Linked DNA regions of Homo sapiens: all the other regions are linked to region 2. Evidence: fine-mapped expression QTL. A gene starts in region 2. Each other region holds a variant in brackets. All regions are shown on one strand. Distances are between the middles of the regions. Region 1 overlaps RPN2 (ribophorin II). Region 2 holds the start of SAMHD1 (SAM and HD domain containing deoxynucleoside triphosphate triphosphohydrolase 1). Region 3 has its middle 26 kb from the start of NNAT.

Evidence for each region. PIP is the estimated chance that this variant, and not a neighbour inherited with it, causes the effect.
Region 1: its variant is the best candidate, but not a certain one, in a credible set for the expression of SAMHD1 in whole blood (TOPMed, PIP 0.50).
Region 3: its variant is the best candidate, but not a certain one, in a credible set for the expression of SAMHD1 in whole blood (TOPMed, PIP 0.50).

The regions. Positions count from the first base shown.
Region 1 is chr20:37,232,804-37,237,803 of GRCh38, reverse strand. It overlaps RPN2 (ribophorin II), which reads right to left. Exons shown (of 17, transcript NM_002951.5): 15 at 3,709-3,784; 16 at 1,095-1,224. Among named protein-coding and RNA genes, the nearest start is that of GHRH, 27 kb to the left of the region's middle. The variant G/TCG (reference allele first, on the strand shown) is at 2,519.
Region 2 is chr20:36,947,360-36,955,119 of GRCh38, reverse strand. SAMHD1 (SAM and HD domain containing deoxynucleoside triphosphate triphosphohydrolase 1) reads left to right here and starts at 3,412. Exons shown (of 16, transcript NM_015474.4): 1 at 3,412-3,684. The coding sequence starts at 3,477. RefSeq lists a silencer at 3,698-3,917 and an enhancer at 7,510-7,760.
Region 3 is chr20:37,491,086-37,498,845 of GRCh38, reverse strand. No RefSeq gene overlaps it. Among named protein-coding and RNA genes, the nearest start is that of NNAT, 26 kb to the left of the region's middle. The variant G/A (reference allele first, on the strand shown) is at 3,530.

The sequences.
Region 1 (5,000 bases), 280 kb before region 2:
TGCTTTGCAAAAGCAACTGAGTCCTGGCTCTTTCTCAGGTACAATGCAGAACCACCAGGAAAAGGCTACTGGAGGGTGGCAAAATGAACCAGCTGCCACTGCTGGTGCTAAGGGAAGCTCTGGTGGGCCCTGGATTCCTACAGGAAAGCCAAGGAACACGTCTGTGCCGAGTCTCCATGGTGAAATGCTCAGAAAGCTCACAATGGAGACTCGGGCGGAGATGAGACATCTTCTCCCACCCACTGATGGTCTCCCTGAAAAAGCCTCTCTCTGATCCCAGCACCCTAACTGGCAGCCACGTTGAGGGTACACTATTGAGTTACATTCTTCCAGCAAACGTCCTGGATAGAAGAAAGCGGCACATCTGAAAACGATTTCCAGAGGTGAAAGCAATTCTGTTCTTACTGGCCTTTGCGTGTCTGAAATCACTCAGGTTCTAATAAAGTCAAATCAATGAGAAACACCTTTGTGACATTTAAATTTGCCTCCAATTCTGTTTAGAAAGTCAAGCTGCCAGCAAGCTGCCCTCATGTCAAGGTCTGTCTGACCATCCATGTGACTCTAAGGTTGTCTGGGTCCCGGGGAGATGGTGTAGGCTACTGAGGAGATACTCCTTGCTGGGAGCCTCTGCAAAACCTGCTGCAGCTTCTGTGGGAAATAACACAGACCTCGTGCTTCCGGGACAAGCTCCTGGAGCTGTGAGGGTTACAGAGGAGCAGCTCTCGGGGACATGTTGAGGGTGGGGAGGGCAGGGCAGGATTCTCTGTAGCAGCAGAGAATTTTTACACAGCTAACAAATTAATCTTCTGCCACATCTATGAATGCATTTTCATCTTCATAAAGCTAATAATTTTCCTCTCTCATTCTATTGTATTGGGGCATCAATTACAATGGTTGTAATACATTCAAAGCTGACCACTAAGGCTCTTTTCTGACTTCAAAGTGCTTCTGGCTTCTGTACTGGGCTAGATTAGGGTGTCAGACTTGCCCCTAAGAACACAAATCATTTTGCCACCTACCCTTCAAAGAGCTAGGCCGGCAGAGCTGAGTATTTCTAACCCTACTCTAGATCCCTGGCTCATGTCTGGCCTTACCTCTTGACTGCCTGCTGGGCCAGCATCCGATTGCCAGCCAGAAACGTCACACTGCCCAGGATGGCCAGGTACTTCAAGGTCTGGAACATGTTGAGCTGAGTCCAGTAGACATACATGAGTCCCAGCATAGCTGCAAGAAGAGGTGTCATGACATCCAATTAAATGAAACATAATGATGCCCTGCGGTTGAGGAAAGTTAGACATAGCAACTGTTGGATCATGAAAAGGTCTGTACTCCTATACCAGCTTGTTTTATTCCTTTGCTCTGATGCCAAAAAGTAGCTAACTCAATATATTCGCCTCTCAGCTGTGGCCAAGTGTGTGGCCAGGCACAGTGGCTCACACCTGTAATCCCAACATTTTGGGAGGCTGAGGCAGGAGGATTGCTCAGGAGTTCGAGACCACCCTGGGCAACACAGTGAGACCTCGTGTCTATTAAAATTCAAAAAATTAGTCAGGCGTAATGGTCCATGTCTGTAGTCCTAGCTACTTAGGAGGCTGAGGTAGGAAGATCGCTTGAGCCTGGGAGGTCAAGGATGCAGTGAGCTTGATCACACCACTGTACTTCAGCCTGGGTGACAGTGATACCTCGTCTCAAAACACACACACACCCACAAACAGGGGTAACAATTGGACTTCAGCGACCTGTGCCATGTTCCTGCTTACAACTATTTCTCTGCTTTTGTTTAAAACTCCTCTGTCATGTTATACTTGGCATTCATTTTTCAAATTCTTAACAAAAATACACAGGATATAAATAGGCTGGGTGCGGGAGCTCACACCTGTAATCCCAGCACTTTGGGAGGCCGAGGCAGAAGGATCACTTGAGGTCAGGCATTCGAGACCACCCTGGCCAACATGGTGAAACCCTCTCTCTACTAAAAATATAAAATTAGCCAGGTGTGGTGGCGCAGGCCTATAATCCCAGCTACTTGGGAGGCTGAGGTGGGAGAATCGCCTGAACCTGGGAGGCAGAGGCTGCAGTGAGCCAAGATCGCACCGTTGCACTCCAGCCTGGGCGAGACAGAGCAAGACTCCATCTCAAAAAAATAAAAAATAAAAATAAAAAATAAACAGGATATAAATAAATGAATAATTTCTTTTTTTATGGGGGGAAACAAACTGTAAGGATAATTTGCCACTGTGACTAGGAAGGGAGCAAGGAGGACTCAGGAAGAAGGCTGAGTGAAAAGGGCTCAGAGCTGGGAACGGAGAGCCCTGGGGCCTGGTCCAGGCCCTGCCCTTACCAGCCACTTAACTTCTCTGAGCCCAGATTCTCCCACCTTGTCAAAAGGGATCATAATTCCTGCCCCAGTCACCCTCATCAGGGCTATGATGATAATCAAATGAGAAAACGTGCACAAAAAGCACAATGGCAGGAAAAGCCACGGCTCTCAACAGATTTATATTCAGGTTTTCTTCTC[G/TCG]GTCTGACCCCAGAGGGCTATCATACATATCCAGGAACTGAGCCAGAGAGAAAGGTCATCCTGTCAGTTTTGCCCAGACAGATGACGGATGAACTACAGCGGGGCTCTTAACCACTTCTGAGGTCACGGACCACTGCACCATAATAATCTGATCAAAGTCACAACTCTCTCTTTCCCCAGAAAAATACAGACATTTGCCTAGAATTTCAAGAGACTTATCTATGCACCCCTACAGAATCTGTTTACTATGGGCGCACAGATAGTGACTCCTGAAAGAGGCAAAGAATTTTAAAAATATTAAGGTCAGGCCAGGCGTGGTGGCTCACACCTATAATCCTAGCACTCTGGGAGGCCAAAGGCGGGAAGACTGCTTGAGCCTAGGAGTTCAAGACCAGCTCTGAACACAGCAAGACCCCGTCTCTACAAAAAATACAAATACTAGCTAAATGTGGTGACACAAGCCTGGAGTCCCAGCTGCTCTGGAGGCTGAGGTGGGAGGATCACCTGAGTCTGGGAGGTCAAGGCTGCAGTGAGCCATGAATGCACCACTGCACTCCAGCCTGGGTGACAGAGTAAGACCCTGTCTCAAAAAAAAAAAAACAACGAACAAAAAATTAAAGTCACAGTGAAATGCAAGGCACCCCTGATCCAATAGCATCAAAAGCCTCAGAAATGCTTAAGTGATTTGTGAATTTACTGTCTTGTTATGTTTAGGCTGTTGAAGTCCTAAGGTCTCCAGAGAACGATGCAGGATAGCATGTCTGACTGTGGAAAGGACTGTTTTCTATTACTACACAGACAGAGCCGGCAGCAAATGTGAAGATCGATAGCGTGGGGAAAGATAACCTTTGGAAACTGCATTAATGCTCTTCATCCAGGAAGATTGCTCAATGTAAAGATACGATAAGTGAGTAATCTCTGGAAATAAACAGGGTTATTAACTGAGGGTAAATGGTCTGCCAACAGTGGCACAGTACAACAAAGCCCAATATAATGACAGCTGTTCTAAGTGATGGACCAAACAGGTTTATCTTCGTATTAACTGTCCTAAAAGGCCAGGAGGAAGAGGGAAATGTAATGCTATTAAGTCATTATAGGTAATAGGTTGTGGGTCTACTTAACAGGGCTTTTGCGTGGGCAGGCTAAATGTCAGAGGACGTTACAGGTAATTAGCAGCCTGGGGCACTTACCAGCATGTCCCAGGTGAAATATAATCGTGCTAGGAGCAAAAGTGAAGTTGGAGACATTGGCACCAATCCGGATCCACTGAATGATGGGGAGAAATAAATTAAAAAGGCATTAGAACTTAAAAGGGAAGCAACACAAGCCATGCCAATGCTAATCCCATCAACAGCCCCAAGGCTTCAAAGTTCATGCATCCTAGAAGGACAGGCAATTCTTCCAAGTGACAACCACCCTATTATAAGCCCTCGGGGAAACTTGTTCCCTTTTTCTTTAGAAAGGCATTCAGCACCTGCTCTCAAATGGGCTCGTGTAACTCAAACCTGAACATCATTTTTAATGATGACAAACCCTACTATTTTAAAACAGGTGAGACCATGAAGCTGAAAGGTCAGAAACTGCATTTATAAGGTAACTGACACCCCCACTAAGTTCTCTAAGAATTGGTAAGATAAACCCACCGGCAGCTGGTGGCATTCACGCTCTTGCCGTGGGTTCCATGTCATTTGAAATTCTCATCACTGAAATGTAAGGACAGGTGCCCATACCCTAGGTCTGGTTTCTGAAAACCTGTAGCAAGGCTTCTAGATTTATCTAGATTTAAACAGTAATTCTTTTGTTAAAAGCAACAATTAGGAACACAGGCAACTTTCCAAAAGTAAGATCTAATGAGTGTTTTCTCAAAATTCTCTGAGCTTTGAGGATATGCATTCATGTTTGTTTATAATTTGAAAAAAGAGAAAAACACAATTGGCTAAAAAAAAAAATTCAAATGGTACTGAAAAGGAGAAAAGGTAAAAGTTACTTCCTCTACATTCTCCAGAATGTCCACTCCTCAGAGATGACCAACACTAACACATATCGCCTTTTAAAACTTATTTTTATTTTTTTTTTAGACAGGGTCTCACTCTGTCACCCAGGTTAGAATGCATGGCTCACTGCAGACTTGACTTCCTGGGCTCATGTGATCTTCCCACCTCAGCTCCTCAAGTAGCCGGGACTACAGGCATACGTCACCATTAATTTTTTTTTTTCTAATTTTCTGATTTTAGTAGAGATGGGGTCTTGCTATGTTGCCCAGGCTGATCTCAAACACCTGAGCTTCAAGCAATCCTCCCACCTCGGCCTCCCAAAGTGCTGGGATTACAGGCATGAGCCACCACACCCAGCCACCTTTTAAAACTTTACAGAGGATCATACTAAACACACTACCCTACCCCTTGCCTTTTTCACTCAGTAACACATCTTGGCAATCTTGTCCTATCAGCATATAAATCTATCCATTCTTTGAAAAGCTGCA
Region 2 (7,760 bases):
GCACTGCCTTTGAATCCTCTCTCTGTCCCTTACCAGCCATGTTGACCCTGAACAAGTAACTAATGACCTAGCGCAAGATCAAAGGCCCCTTGAAAGTAGGGAATTAGGGAAAATATAATAAGTATGGCAATAAATTATACTTTTTAACAAACAAAAACAGAAAATAAAAGTTCTGGATGGGTGCGGTGGCTCATGCCTGTAATCTGAGCACTTTGGGAGGCCAAGGCACTTGAGGTCAGGAGTTCACTGATCACTTGAGGTCAGGAGTTCAAAGCCAGCCTGGCCAACATGGTGAAACCCCGTCTCTACTAAAAATACAAAAAAATTAGTTGGGCGTCGTGGCGGGTGCCTATAATCCCAGCTACTCAGGAGGCTGAGGCAGGAGAATCGCTTGAACCCGGGAGGCAGAGGTTTGCAGTGAGCCCAGATTGCACCACTGCACTCCACCCTGGGCCACAGAGCAAGACTCTGTCTCAAAAAAAATTAAAATTAAAATTAAAATAAAAAAATGAAATTAAAAAACTAAAAATTCTTAAAAGCAGCTGCTTTGAACAAACACAGTTGATTAAACTAAAAACCCTGCTATAACACCTTCTATTGTCCAGGAAACCTTGATGTCAGGGCAGGTTTCCCCACAGGTCTTATAAACACAAGTTTTTAAATCAGCCATTTCTGACTTGAGATTAAGTCTTTCATACATATGCTATTTGTTTTCTTATCCCGTTTTGGTTTCGCAAGTCTTGGCAACTGTCAGGTCTTTTCACAAAGTTCTCTAGTGTTTGAGGGCATTTTTTTGGGGGGCCTGGCCTTGTGTGCAGATGGAAAACAACTCTTTTTTTTTTTTTTTTTTTGAGATAGAGTTTCACTTTTGTCTCCCAGGCTATGGCTCACTTCAACCTCCACCTCCCAGGTTCAAGCGATTCTCCTGCCTCAGCCTCCTGAGTAGCTGGGATTACAGGCGGCTGCCACCACGCCCGGCTAATTTTTTTTTTTTTTTTTTTGAGACGGAGTCTCGCTCTGTTGCCCAGGCTGGAGTGCAGTGGCGCGATCCAAGCTCACTGCAACCTCCGCCTCCCAGGTTCAAGCAATTCTCTGCCTCAGCCTCTCAAGTAGCTGGGATTACAGGTGCCTGCTACGATGCCCAGCTAATTGTTTTGTATTTTTAGTAGAGACGGGTTTCATCATGTTGGCCAGACTAGTCTTGAACTCCTGACCTTGTGATCCACCCGCCTCGGCCTCCCAAAGTGCTGGGATTACAGGTGACAGCTACTGCGCCTGGCCACCCAGCTAATTTTTGTAATTTTAGTAGAGACAGGGTTTTGCCATGTTGGCCAGGCTGGTCTCGAACTCCTGACCTCAGGTGATCCACCCGCCTCGGCCTCCCAAAGTGCTGGGATTACAGACGTGAGCCACTGCGCCTGGCAGGAACACCTTTATACTTTCCTCCATGGGTCTGCAGGAAAAGGGAGCCATTGAAAATTGTGGGTTAAATAATAGAAAATAGTTTTATATCAAAACCCCCTTTACTTATTTATTTATTTTTTATTATTATTATTTTTGAAACAGAGTCTTGCTCTGTTGCCCAGGCTGGAGTGCAACGGGAAGATCTTGGCTCACTGCAACCTACACCTCCCACATTTGAGTGATTCTCGTGCCCCCGCCTCCTGAGTAGCTGGGATTACAGGCATGCACCACCAGGCCTGGCTAATTTTTGTATTTTAGTAGAGATGGGGTTTCACCATGTTGGCCAGGTTGGCCTTGAACTCCTGGCCTCAAGTGAGTGCTCTGGCCTCCCAAAGTGCTGGGATTACAGGCATGAGCCACTGCACCCAGCCCCAAACCCCCTTTAACAAGCAGTGGTTGGCAAGTTATCAAGACCATGGACTTTGGAACCAAGTTACATCTCTTGGGTTTGAATACAGGCTTCATCATTTCCTAGCTGTAAGACCTTGGGCAGCTGGGTACGGCTGTGTAATCCCAGCACTTTGGGAGGCTGAGGTGTGGGAATCACCTGAGGTCAGGAGTTCAAGACCAGCCTGGCCAACATGGTGAAATCCTGTCTCTACTAAAAATACAAAAATTAGCCAGGTGTGGTGGCAGGCGCCTGTAGTCCCAGCTACTTGGGAGTCTGAGGCATGAGAATCACTTGAACCTGGGAGGCAGAGGTTGCAGTGAGCTGAGATCACGCCACTGCACTCCAGCTTGGGAAACAGAGCAAGACTCCGTCTCAAAAAAAAAAAAGAAGACCTGCGGCAAATTACTTTTTCCTACATCCTAAGGTAATTGTGATAATTAAGTGAAGTAATATGTGTAGAGCCCTTAGAACTTTACAATATTTGTAAAACCCTTAGAAGTTATAAAAATTATTTAATATTTAAATAATTTAATGAATGTACTTAATTCATTTAGTATTATGTATAAATATAAAATTATTTTATATTTGTAAAGCCCTTAGAACCGTGCCTGGCACACAGTAAAGCTCTGTTTGCAAATAATATTTTGGCTCACCAGTAGACCACTAGTTCATACTGCTTGATGATAAGCTATTCCGCCTCATTCGTCCTTGACCCCCTAAACAGGTCTATGCCTTGGTTGCTGGGAAGGTGTGTTGGCTTTATTAACAGTAATAGTGATATGTCCTTTTACCAGGCAATTGCATGGACCAGTATTTATAGGGAAGTTTGAGCCCTGCCGCAGAGGGGTTAAGTGATGGGAAAATGCCTGCCATTTTCACATGCTGTTACAACCAGGCAGTAAAAGTCCTCAGAAGTTAAATTTTAAGTAATCAGACTGGCCACTTTCCTTCCTCTGGGAATGCAGTTGGGATGGAGGGCTCTGTCTCTAGTTGGAAAGAAGTCTGAAGTCCCCTCCTGTGTGGACACCAGACAACAGGTATCCCAGGGCCCTCTAGTTGACCAGCAATACTGTGGAATGAAGACACCCTCAAGTCACATTTGAAATCATTCCGGGTTCTTCCAGTTCAGCACCTTGACTGTTTTCCTCTTCACTGGGAAGGTGCTGGCAGCCTGACGGCCTTTTAGGCTTCTTTTAAGTTTGGGGCATCTGAAACCCGGCCAAGGTGCGGCGGGTAGTGTACTCATTCGAAGGAGAATACCCCCAATTCACTAGACGAGCCCCTAATTGGGGGTGCGGTGCCGGGCGCGCTCTTTCCTCCCCCTTTCCACCAGCACTGCCCTCAGTTCTGCTTCTAGCCACGCCCTTTCGCGTTCACGTCCAGCGCCCTGGCGGGATTGATTTGAGGACGACTGGACTGCCATTGCGCCTGCGCAGGGAGCCCAAGGCAAGAGCCGCTAGGCTGCCCTGCCCGAAGGGCTCAACTGTCAGTGAGCCTGCGCAGGAGGCCAATAGGCTGCCAATACTCCTTGGACTCCCCGCCAGGGCCCTGCTGTCAGTGCGCCTGCGCGCGGGTCCGGCGCCGAGGTTCTTGACTGCTGTGCCGGACGCCAGGTGTAGCCATGCAGCGAGCCGATTCCGAGCAGCCCTCCAAGCGTCCCCGTTGCGATGACAGCCCGAGAACCCCCTCAAACACCCCTTCCGCAGAGGCAGACTGGTCCCCGGGCCTGGAACTCCATCCCGACTACAAGACATGGGGTCCGGAGCAGGTGTGCTCCTTCCTCAGGCGCGGTGGCTTTGAAGAGCCGGTGCTGCTGAAGAACATCCGAGGTAGCGGCTCCGGAGGGGCTGAGGGGCGAAGGGCGGCGACCTGGGGCGCGGGCCAGGCGCCCTGAGGGAGGGGGCCCCACGAGAGGACCGAGGCCGAGGAGCGAGCCCTGCGGCGGGAGGCACCCGGGAGGGCGGACCTGCGCTGGGGGCGCCGAGGAAAGGAAGACCCGAGGCGGGGGAGGGAGCCCTGCGGCGGGGGTTCCCAGGAGGGCCTGCGGCATGGGGCTCCCGGGACTGACTCCCCGAGGCGGAGGAAGAAGACATGGGGTCGCCTGGGATAGGCGATTCGTAGGATGGGAGCAGGCTCCCGGGATTGAGGACCTGGGAGGGGCAGTCGTAGATTGGGATCTCACTCTCGTGGGTTTCTTCACTAACTTGCCACCCCGGCGCGGGACAAGCGAGACTCGGGTCCCTTTTTTTTAGTTAGAAGGAGATTTTTCCCCAGACCTTGGTGGGCGGCTTGCTGTCATCCAGGCTCGCGGGACCCCTCCGCGCTAACCGCAGCTCCTTGAACACTTGCCACATCAGAGGATGTTCTGGGGCTTTTAGGTTTCGGTTTCCTCCCTGAATTGAGGCTTTTCCTGAAGGGGAAGGAACTGGCTTGGTTAATCTCTGAATTCCCATCACCTTCCTTGGCATCCCAGCAGCGCCCGATAGGCGTGTGTTGACTGCACTTGCAGAACATGGTAAGGAACATGTTTTGCTCTTTAAAAGCAGGTTCCCCTCCAAAATCTGAACCTTGGGGTTGTTCAGTTGACCACTGAATCCCCAGCATGCCACAGTTTGGCCACATCCCCTGGAGAAGTGTTTAGGTTGAGTTTTAATCATATTTTACTGATTCGTATCCAAGCATCCATCCTTGTGAATTCTACTCAACTTTTTGTGGTGGGTGTGAGATTTGACTCCTGCCTTATATCCTCTAGGTGTCCAATAGGAAGGTGATTCTTTGGTGGTTGGGATTTGCAAATTTAGTAAATTTTTGCATTTGTTAGGTGGGGCCCTGTTTGGCTAGGTTGGAAACTGGGGTAGGAGGAACATTAGTGGTTCAGGACCCAAAGATAGCTTGAATGGGTATGGGAAATTGCATTTCTCCTTTTTTTTTTTTCTTCCCCCTTTTGCCCTTTCGTTTCCCTCCACTGCTGGGATGGATTATTACTTTATTTTCTTTGACTAGCAACAAGTGGAGTGAAGTAGTTCCATATTTTCTGTCTCAAAATGTGGTTGGCTCTCTGTTTCAGTGGTTTGTAGATTAACTCGTTACCCTCCAGAATGATGTGTGTTCCTTAAACCTACAACCTATTGCTATCAAAGACACTATGTGCTTTCATTTGGTAAAAACTGACCAACTGTTCCCAATTGCTCATGTCTTAGCTTCTGCTTTGTCTTGACCAAACTTTATTCGGACTTCTCTCTTCCCTTATGGGCCCCTCAACTCTTGCTTACCCCCAGATCTGACCAGGCAGGCACTAAAGCAGTGGAATATGCCTCCCTCTGGTCAGTTTCTTTTGAGAACCGGCTGACCACAGTAGGATGCTGTCCTGTTGGGCTACACTGCTCATTTTCCCTTGCTCGTCCAGGTTCCTATCCAAAGATTCTGCTTATTTCTGCTTGCCCGTCCTTTATCATATAAAAGAAGACCCTTTTTCTGTTGGATTCTTTTTTTTTTTTTTTTTTTTTTTTGAGACAGAGTCTCGCTCTGTCGCCAGGCTGGAGTGCAGTGGCGCCATCTCGGCCCAGTGCAACCTCTAACTGCCTGGTTCAAGCTATTCTCCTGCCTCAGCCTCCCGAGTAGCTGGGATTACAGGCATGTGCCACCACGCCCAGCTAATTTTTTTGTATTTTTAGTAGAGATGGGGTTTCACCATGTTGGCCAGGATGGTCTCCATCTCCTGAACTCGTGATCCGCCTGCCTCAGCCTCCCAAAGTGCTGGGATTACAGGCGTGAGCCACCGCGCCCGGCCTCATTTTTTTTTTTTTTTTAATTAGAGACAGGGTTTTGCCATGTTGGCCAGGCTGGTCTCAAACTCTTGGCTTCGAGTGACCATCCACCCACCTCGGCCTCCTAAAGTGCTGGGATTACAAGTGTGAGCCACCATGCCCAACCTCTGTTTGGTTCTTGGGCCTCTGTTTGATTATTTTTTAAAATTTATTTTATTATTTTATTTTTTTTCTGAGATGGAGTCTCGCTCTGTCACGCAGGCTGAAGTGCACCGGCACAATCTCAGCTCACTGCAACCTCTGCCTCTCGGGTTCAAGTGGTTCTCCTGCCTCAGCCTCCCTAGTTGCTGGGATTACAGGTGCACGCCACCACGCCTGGCTAATTTTGTGTTTTTAGTAAAGACAGGGTTTCACCATGTTGGCCAGGCTGGTCTCCAACTCCTGTCCTCAGGTGATGCATCCGCCTCTGCCTCCCAAAGTGCTGGGATTACAGGCGTGAGCCACCGCGCCCGGCCGGCCTATGTGTTTGATTCCTGAGCCTCTTGCAGATATCTGATATTGGAGCTTTCTCCCTGTAGAAATAGTCTTTCTTCTTTTCTTTTCTTTTTTTCTTTTCTTTTTTTTTTTTTTTTGAGACAGAGTCTCGCTCTGTCGCCAGGCTGAAATGCAGTGGTGTGATCTCGGCTCACTGTAACCTCTGCCTCCCGGGTTCAAGCAATTCTCCTGCCTCAGCCTCCTGAGTAGCTGTGACTACAGGTGCCCACCACCACACCTGGCTAATTTTTGTATTTTTAGTAGAGATGGGGTTTCACCATGTTGGCCAGGATGGTCTTAATCTCTTGACCTGATGATTCACACGCCTTGGCCTCCCAAAGTGCTGGGATTACAGGTGTGAGCCACCACGCCCGACCAGCAATAGTCTTTCTTTCTAATAAAGTTTCTCTTGGCCGGGCACGGTGGCTCACGCCTGTAATCCCAGCACTTTGGAAGGCCGAAGCAGGTAGATCACCTGAGGTCAGGAATTCAAGCCCAGCCTGGCCAACATGGTGAAACACCGTCTCTACTAAAAATACAAAAATTAGCCGGGCATGGTGGTATGTGCCTGTAGTCCCAGCTACTTGGGAAGCTGAGGCAGGAGAATCACTTGAACCTGGGAGGCGGAGGTTGCAGTGAGCCAAGATCCCGCCACTGCACTCCAGCCTGGGCGACCGAGTGAGACTCCATCTCGGAAAAGAAAAAAAAAGTCTCTCTTTATCTAAGTCCATTTTTTTTTTAATTTGATAAGCCAAGCACAAGGTACAGTGTCCCTTTTCTCATTATGGAATACAGCCTCACAAGAAGTCTGAAATAAGTTACTACACTCAACACATTTTACCGATGATGTATGCGAGGTCCAAAGATGTAAAGTAACTTTTCAGAGATCACACCACTACAAAAAAGAGCTAGATTTTTTAAGGTTAGGTCTTTGGACTCTAGAACTCATGTGATCTATACCTTAACAAGTATTCTCATCAAAAACCACTGGAGGCCTGGCCCAGTGGCTCATACCTATAATCCCAGCACTTTGGGAGGCCAGTGTGGGAAGATCACTTGAGCCCAAGAATTCAAGACCAGCCTGGGCAACATCAGGAGACCTCAACTTTACAAAAAATAAAAATAAAAATTAGCTAGGTGCAGTGGCACATGCCTGTGGTCCCAGCTACTCAGGAGGCTGAGGCAGGAGGATCGCTTGAGCCCAGGAGGTCAAGGCTGCAGTGAGATGTGATCGCACCACTGCACTCCAACCTGGGCAACAAGCAAAACCCTGTCTCAAAGAAAATAAAAGAAAATAGTCCAGAGTTCTGGAATTTGAGGTCAGGAAAGATTAGAATTAATTGTATAGAAAGAGAAAGGAAAAAACCCAACAACACACACACACACACACACACACACACACACACACACACCCCTCTTCCAAATCAGAGTATTGAGTGCTTTCCCAGGACACACACACACACACACACACTCACACACACACACACCTCTTCCAAATCAGAGTATTGAGTGCTTTCCCAGGACACACACACACACACACACACACACACACACACACCTCTTCCAAATCACACACACCTCTTCCAAATCAGAGTATTGAGTGC
Region 3 (7,760 bases), 540 kb before region 2:
CCCTCTGCTCTTATTTGTTTGGCCCTTGTTTTTTCATATCCCATTTCAACCTGTTTACTAATCACTGTGCTTGATTCACAGACACACACAAAGTAAACGTTCTCCCTCTCTGGGCACAAAAATTTGAGCACAGCCAGACGCACAGAGGCAGCATAATTGGCTGAAAACAAATTAGAATCTTTTCAAATTATACTTTAATTAAACAAGTAAAGTGTGCATACATTCTCCTTTTTAAAAGTAGGACAATATGAATATAACTGTAGTCCCCTTTGGCCACCCTCTGGAGTCCTCATTTCCCACCCCCTCCACAGTTTTATGTATCTCCATCCATAGTAACACATAGTCCTGATGTATTTTCAATGAGTCATACCACATTATAGCGATTTTACTATAAGCTGCAGGTTTTTTTCACTCAGTGTTACATTTTTACAATATACTCCTATTGCTACACATAGCTTGCTTTTGCCTTTAATAGCTATGTTGTATTCATTCCCATGAATGTACCACATTTTATCTTCTGTAAGCTCCATGGACATTTAATTGCTTCTTTTTCTTTCCTCCATCATGAGCAGTGCTGCAGAAACCACATTGCATGTTCCTTTGTGGTGGGATATCTCTGGGAGTGATTGGGAAATGGAATGTTGGGTCTTAATATGTCCACAGTTTTAGTTTTAGCAGATACTACCACTGTCCTCCATGATTTCTGTACCATTTAAGCTTCCAGCCAGAGGGTATGAGAGGGCTGTAATCCCCACACCCATAGGCGGTTGTTTTAAATATTTGCCAATCTCATGGGTGAAAAATTGAATCCTTTTTAAAATTTGTATTTTCCTGTTTGCTTGTGAGATTTTCATATGTATATTGAGCATTTGTATTTTCTCTTTTCTGAATTGCCTGTTATTTTTTCTCATTTTAAGCATTAGGTTGTCTTTATCCCACTGGCTTGTGGAGTTTTGTAATATAATCTGGATATTGATCTTTTGTAGATATGTGACAAATATTTTCTTCCAGCTTGTCATTGCCTTTAACTCTTTGTAGAATCTTTTGTTAGAAGTTATTAGTTTTGACATAATCCAATTTATCAATCTTTTCCTTTGATCCTTTTTTATACAGATACCATGTTTAGTCCTTCCCTACTCCTAAGATTTAAATATATTATTTCTTCTTTTCTAATAATTTTATAATTTTGTTTTTATTTGGTTCTTTATGCATCTGGAATATATTTTGATTATCATATTGATATATGATCTAACCTTTCTCCAAACGGGCAGCCAATTATTGCAGTATGAGGGGTTGACTAGTTCTTCCTTTCCCCTCTGACCTGAAGTAAAACTCCCTGATATTCTGAGTCAGGTGTGTCTGAAGCCCCTGTTTTTCCCAACAATCCATTTATTCCTTTCAGTACAAGACTGTTTTCTTTGCTGTCCCACCTTTTGGTATCTGTGAAGTCAAATGCCATGTTTCGTTGTGCTTCCTTCTCAGCTCTCTTAGCTAACTAGTACCGCACACTAACTCCTCCACATGAATTGTAAAGCCAGCTTGTCAAGTTGGAGAAATTGACATCAATACAATACCGAGCCTTTGAATTCATGAATACAGTAGAGCTCTACGTTTATTCTTATTATCTTGTATGTCCTTCACTCATGCACTGTTGTTCTCCCCATAAAGAACTTGCCCATTTCCTAATGGGTTTATTCCTATACTTTTTATTATTGTTGTGAATTAGTTTTCTCCAGCCCCCTTTTTTGTTTTGCTTTTGCTTGCTACATTTCTTTTTCATCTGCTTACTAATCACTCTACTTCATTCACAGGCACACACAAAGTAAATATTCCTCCTCCCTGGGCACAAACATGCAAGCACATCCAAACACACGGAGCCCACGTTATTGGCTGAAAATAAATAGTAATTTTTTAAAAAATTGAAGTCGAATGACACAAGCAAAACATGAATACGTTCCCCTTTTTTAAAAAAGAGAACATTGCAGATGAAGCTGGAGTCCCTTTTGGCCACCCACTGCCACCCTATTCCCTTCCTCCTCTCCAGAGGTAACCACAGTAATGGGCTCAATGTGGACTTTTCTAGACGTTTCTAAAAACTTACATATATAGATACCCAGAGGAAATATATGGTATACTTAAATAATGAAAATGTTATCTTTCTAGTTTTCATTAATATTCAACTTTTGTATTGACCTGAATTTTATTATGGTTGCAGAATAGAATGTCAACATTATCATCTGTCACAATGTGAAAGTAAAGATATAAAAGTTGGGAGGTAGCAGTGAAGGGAAGAGGGTAGGAAGGTTGACAGGGACAATAGTGGGGAGGCAAGAGCTTCTGTGGACATGTGGTAGAATAAGGAATGAAGGGGCAAGTAGGTTTCTTAAAAAGATAACCAACAGAGGTACTTAAAGACTGTGTTAGGAGAGGTAGGGATAGAGGGGAGTAGTTTCCAAGTGACCCAATGCCTAATCCACTGGGACATCAGTGGATCTTATGAACTAGAAATGGGGTGTAGCAGATGCTGTCTAGAGGGCTCCCATGACCCAGTTTTGACTTGGGACTTGTAAGGGGATATCTTCAGGCAGTTTCAGGGAAACACTTTCCTCCCTAATTAAAGAGATGCATGTGGGGCCAGGCACAGTGGCTGTCGCCTTGTAGTCCCAGCACTTTGGGAGGTTGAGGCGGGCAGACTGCTTGAGCCTAGGAGTTCGAGACTAGCCTGGGCAACATTGTGAAGCCCCATCTCTACAAAAAATACAAAAGTTAACCAGGCGTGGTGGCATGCACCTGTGGTCCCAGCTGCTCAAGAGGCTGAGGTGAGGAGATTGCTTTAGCTTGGGAGGTTGAGGCTTCAGTGAGCTACTACCATGCCATTCTACTCCAGCCTGGGTGGCAGAGTGAGACCGTGTCTCGAAAAAAGAAAAGAAAAAGAGGGATGCACTTGGAGAAGTTTCTTGGCTGCCCCCTTTCTTTCTGCCTAGGTGCTGTTGAGTGAAAACATAGTGCTTGGAGCCCTGACAGCTATCTATCTTGTGACCAGGAGGGGAAGGCCAGGAGACTCATGGTTCTCTGTTCACTCAGATCTCAGATACCTGGAACCACTGACTTTTGAACTTTTCATTACTTGAAATAAATGTTCTTGTTGCTTAGCCACTTTTAGGTGATATATTACGTTCTGGTGAAAGCATTCTTCCTAATACAAGCTGAGAGCTTACAGCTAGGAGACAACCTCCAGGAGCAGAGATCACACACTCTCGGGTAAGAGTTTGGGGTTGGGAGAGGGTCCATCCCGAACTTGCTGCTCTTCATCAAAAGCCCTTCTATTCTCTTGGATTAAAAAAAAAAATTCTGATAAGCCAGGCACATCATGCACCTGTATTCCCACCTACCTGGGAGGCTGAGGCAGGAGGATCACTTGAGCCCAGGAGCTCAAGGCTGCAGTGCGCTGTGATTGTGCCTGTGAATAGCCACTGCATTCCAGCCTGGTCAGCAGAACCAGGCACTGTCCCTAAAAACAAACAATTCT[G/A]ATAACAAGTGTGTCAAGATGTGAACAGTGGTTGCCTCTGGGTACATTTGGATACTTTGCAGTTTTCTAAGATGTTGTCAAATGTTCTTAGGAGCTGACACATAAGAGAAGCTAAGTTTTGACTCCAGAAAAGGAAAGGCCCACAGCTGGTGAGACTGCCCAGGTGAAATCCTAGATGGATTCAAGGGGCGTTAGAGCTGGGGATGAGGAGCAAGCTGTGGGTGGATCTCACCTCACCTGATCCTGGAGGGCCAGCAACCTTCCTGGGTTCTTAAGGGAACTGCAGGGAGTCCAGCCGATTTGAGACACACAGGGTTGGGGGCATGGGTGTGGCAGGAGGGAGATCAGTGACAGATCAGGCTGGCTGCACCTGCAGTGCTGCTGTGTCATGACAAGAAGTGAGCTTCTATCCAAGGGTAATGAGGAACCAGTGGCCGTTTTTTCTTTTGTTTTGCTTTTTAATGGACGGAGTCTCACTCTGTTGCCCAGGCTGGAGTGCAGTGGCATGATCTCGGCTCACTGCAATGTCTGCCTCCCAGGTCAGCGATTCTCCTGCCTCAGCCTCCCGAGTAGATGGGATTACAGGCGTGTGCCACCACGCCCAGTTAATTTTTATATTTTTAGTACAGACAGGATTTCACCATGTTGGCCAGGATGGTCTCGAACCCCTGACCTCAGGTGATCTGCCCATCTTGGCCTCTCAAAGTGCTGGGATCACAGGCGTGAGCCACCATGCCTGGCCGTGGCTGTTCTTAAGCAGGGAGACAGGTGTGATCACTTTCATTTAGTTAAGTTTCTTTGCCAGTGGAAGAAGCTCAACTGAAACCAGCTCAGGCACAGAAGGAACTTAATTGGCTTCTATACGCAAACCACAGGCCAAGCTAGGTTCAGTTGACCTTCCGGTCCCCCGGGGCCAGGGACTTAACTGGCAGCCTGCCCCTCTCCCATCTCCATGTCTCCACGTCTCTTTGCCTGCCAGCTCCCTCTCTCAGGGATGCCTCTTCCACACACTGGCGTTCGTGACTGCCAATGTTTCACACCTCTCAGGTTCATGACCACAAAGAGATCGAGGTAGGAGCGCAGGAACTTGGTTAAGCATCAGGGCTACTTGCTTACTCATTGTTTTGTCTAATTTCTCTGTCTTCAGTGTCCTCACATAGGAAATGGGGATAACAACAGCACCAGCTTAATGCTGTGAGGGTCAAAGGAGATGATGTCCATCAAGTACTTACCTCGGGGATGGACACTAAGTGCTCCATACATGTTATGAGCTCTCTCTGTTCCCAAGTCCAGAAATCTAGACAAAAGCTTCCATTGGCCCAGTTGAGTTGGGGTTCACCTCTGGCAAATCAATGATGGCCATTAAAGTGGGTTGTGCAATAAATGAGAAGGTGAATTTCAAAGCAAATAGGTTGGGGTGCAGAATGATTTCCAAGAAGGATTGGCGCAGTTCTAGAAAAAGAACAGAGGTCATCCCTCTGGCTGCCAGCAGAAAAGGGTTTGATCAGGCCCCAACAGCCTGGAGGTAGGGAAGTACCTAAGAGGCACCACAGTTGTCCAGGTGAGAAATAACGCAGGTCTGAGCTAAGCAACAGTGCAGATGGAGAGAAGGCGGAGGCAAGAGAAGTTTTGGAGGTAGAAATAGGGGGCATGGTGCCAAGTGCACGGGAGAGATGAGACAGAATGAAAGGTTGAAGGTGGCCCCAGGTGCTAGCCCAGAAACCTACAAACAGAGCCTCTCCAAAATGTTGCTTCATTACTCAGGTTAACTCTTCCCAACACCACTGCCACTCCATTCTGCTCAGTAGCACAAACTTAGTTGAAGGTAAACCCAGCCACATCTGGACATTTCAAAAGACTATCTTAAGTAGATTCTTGGTCCACTTCCAGCTCCTCTGCTTCCCACTGCTCCTTCTCCTTGTGGGTAGTCAGTGTTCTGGGAGCTTCTATTCTGACCTGGCACCAGGGGCATACAAGTGATTCAGGTCTGCCAGCAACTATCCACTGCCATCCACTGAGCCACAGAATCCCTACTAAATCTTTGTCCTGACCATGAGGCACCTCCAAGTCCACCGGCTACACTCACCCTCTTCTCTACACCCTCACCATCACCACCGTGTTACAAAGACAAACAGGACCCTGGAGGACACCTCCCAGCCACCTTCTCCCACCAGGGGTCCTCAGCCTCTCTCCAGCCCATGCCAGGAGCTTGTGTTCTCTCAGGCAACACCTGAGGAGCCAGGCAACAGTCCCTTCTGCTCTGGGATACCTCAAATTTACTCTGGGAGCTCTAGTATCTACTATGAGCTACATCTCTTTGTGATTCCTTTATTCCCACTAGCTGGTCAAACTTTTATTTCCTTTTAGGCAGAAAAACAGCTTCTGTATTCTTCCCTGTTTACCATTCTGGCATCAATTTCAAGTGCTCAGTCCCTCAAGCTCTTTCCTCTTTACAAAAGCCCGGCTACTGCAACAAAGCATCCTGTCTGCTGTAAGTTTCAAGAGACTCTTTGAAACTACTGACCATCTTTCTCACTGCATTCATGCTGCAACAACCCAAATCCTGCAAAGCTCTGACTGAATCAGGAAAAAGTGACCTTGGTAGCTAGTCTCCAAAGATGGCCACCACCAATACTTGCCTTCCTGCGATATATATCATACTCCTTGTATCAGGAAGAGAAGTGTAATTCCCTCCCCATGAATCTAGGCTGGCCTTAGTGACTTTCTTGGCCAATAGAATATAGCAGAAGGCACATTCTGGGATTTGTAAGACTAGGTCGCAGGAAGCCTTATGGCCTCTGCCAGGCCTCTTGCAATGCTTGGCCTTGGAACACTCCCTCCTACAAGCCAGCTGCCATGCTATGAGAAGTGCAGGTCCTGTGGTAAATCCACATGTGGTCACTCCAGTCAACGGTCTCAGCAAGCCCCCAGCTGACTGTCAACTATGTGAATGAGCCTGCAGATGACTCCAGCCCCAGCTGCCATCTGACTGCAGCTGCATGAAACACTTAAGCAAGAACCACCTTGCTGAGCCCTATCAACCCCGGAACCATGAGGAATAATAAACTGTTTTTGTTTTTGTTGTTGTTGTTTTTGAGACAGGGTCTTTCTGTGTCATCTAGCCGGAGTACAGTGGCACAATCATGGCTCAATGCAGCGTCGGACCTCCTAAGCTCAGGCAATCCTCCCACTTCAGCCTCCCAAGTGGCTGCAACTATAGGCGTGCACCACTACACTTGGCTAATTTTTGTATTTTTGATAGAGATGGGGCTTCCCCATATTGTCCAGCCTGGTCTCAAACTCCTGAGCTCAAGTAATTTGCCTGCCTCGGCCTCCCGAAGTGCTGGGATTACAGGTGTGAGCCACTGCACCTGGCCAATAAATTGTGTTTGTAAGCCACTAATGTTTGGTGTAGTTTGTTGTGCACCAACATGGTGATGGGCAAGGAAGTGTGGTGGGGGGTGGGGAAGCACATCAAATAATATATAAAATATGATCCTACTACACAGCATTTAAATGGACCATCATAGTACAGTATGGTAAGTGCAGTAACGAAACATAAATATGCACAGAACTTTCCAGAAGAGGTGACCATTGGTCTTAGGGTGACTTATCTCCTTAGAGATGAGCAGGAATGAGCAAGCTAGAAGGAACTGGAAAGACCTTTTAAACAGAGGGAACAGCACAAGCATAGCCTTGGGAATGAGGAGCAGCAGGAGTGAGCTGGAGGGTATTTGGTGTTCCTGGACTATGACAAAAGAAGGAGGGGATGGGAAGAGCAAGATGAAGTGGACAGAGACCAGACCCTGCAGAGCCTTGGATGCCCCCATGTCAAGGAGTTTGGACACTGTCCTGCAGTCACTGGGCACTGTTGAAAGTTTTTACACTAGAGTGATGCATTCAGATTTGTTATTTGGGAAGACCACTGAGATGGTCAGTGTGAAGACTATATTTGGAAGAAGATAGTCTCTAGGCAGGGAGACCAATTTAGAAAATAAAGTCAGAAATGCATAAGGATTGTTGGCTGTTGGGGTGAGAGAGAGGGTAGAACCAAGGGTGATTCTCGTGTGTCTTTGGGTTCCTTGGCAGATGGTGAGGAGGTGCTTGAGATGGGGAACACAGCATGGTAGCCAGTTTGGGTGGGGGGAATGGGCTCAGTCTCAGAGAAGTAGAGATGAGGGGCCGGGGGTACAGCCAGGAGGAGGTTAGCAGACAGCTGGATGCCAGAGCT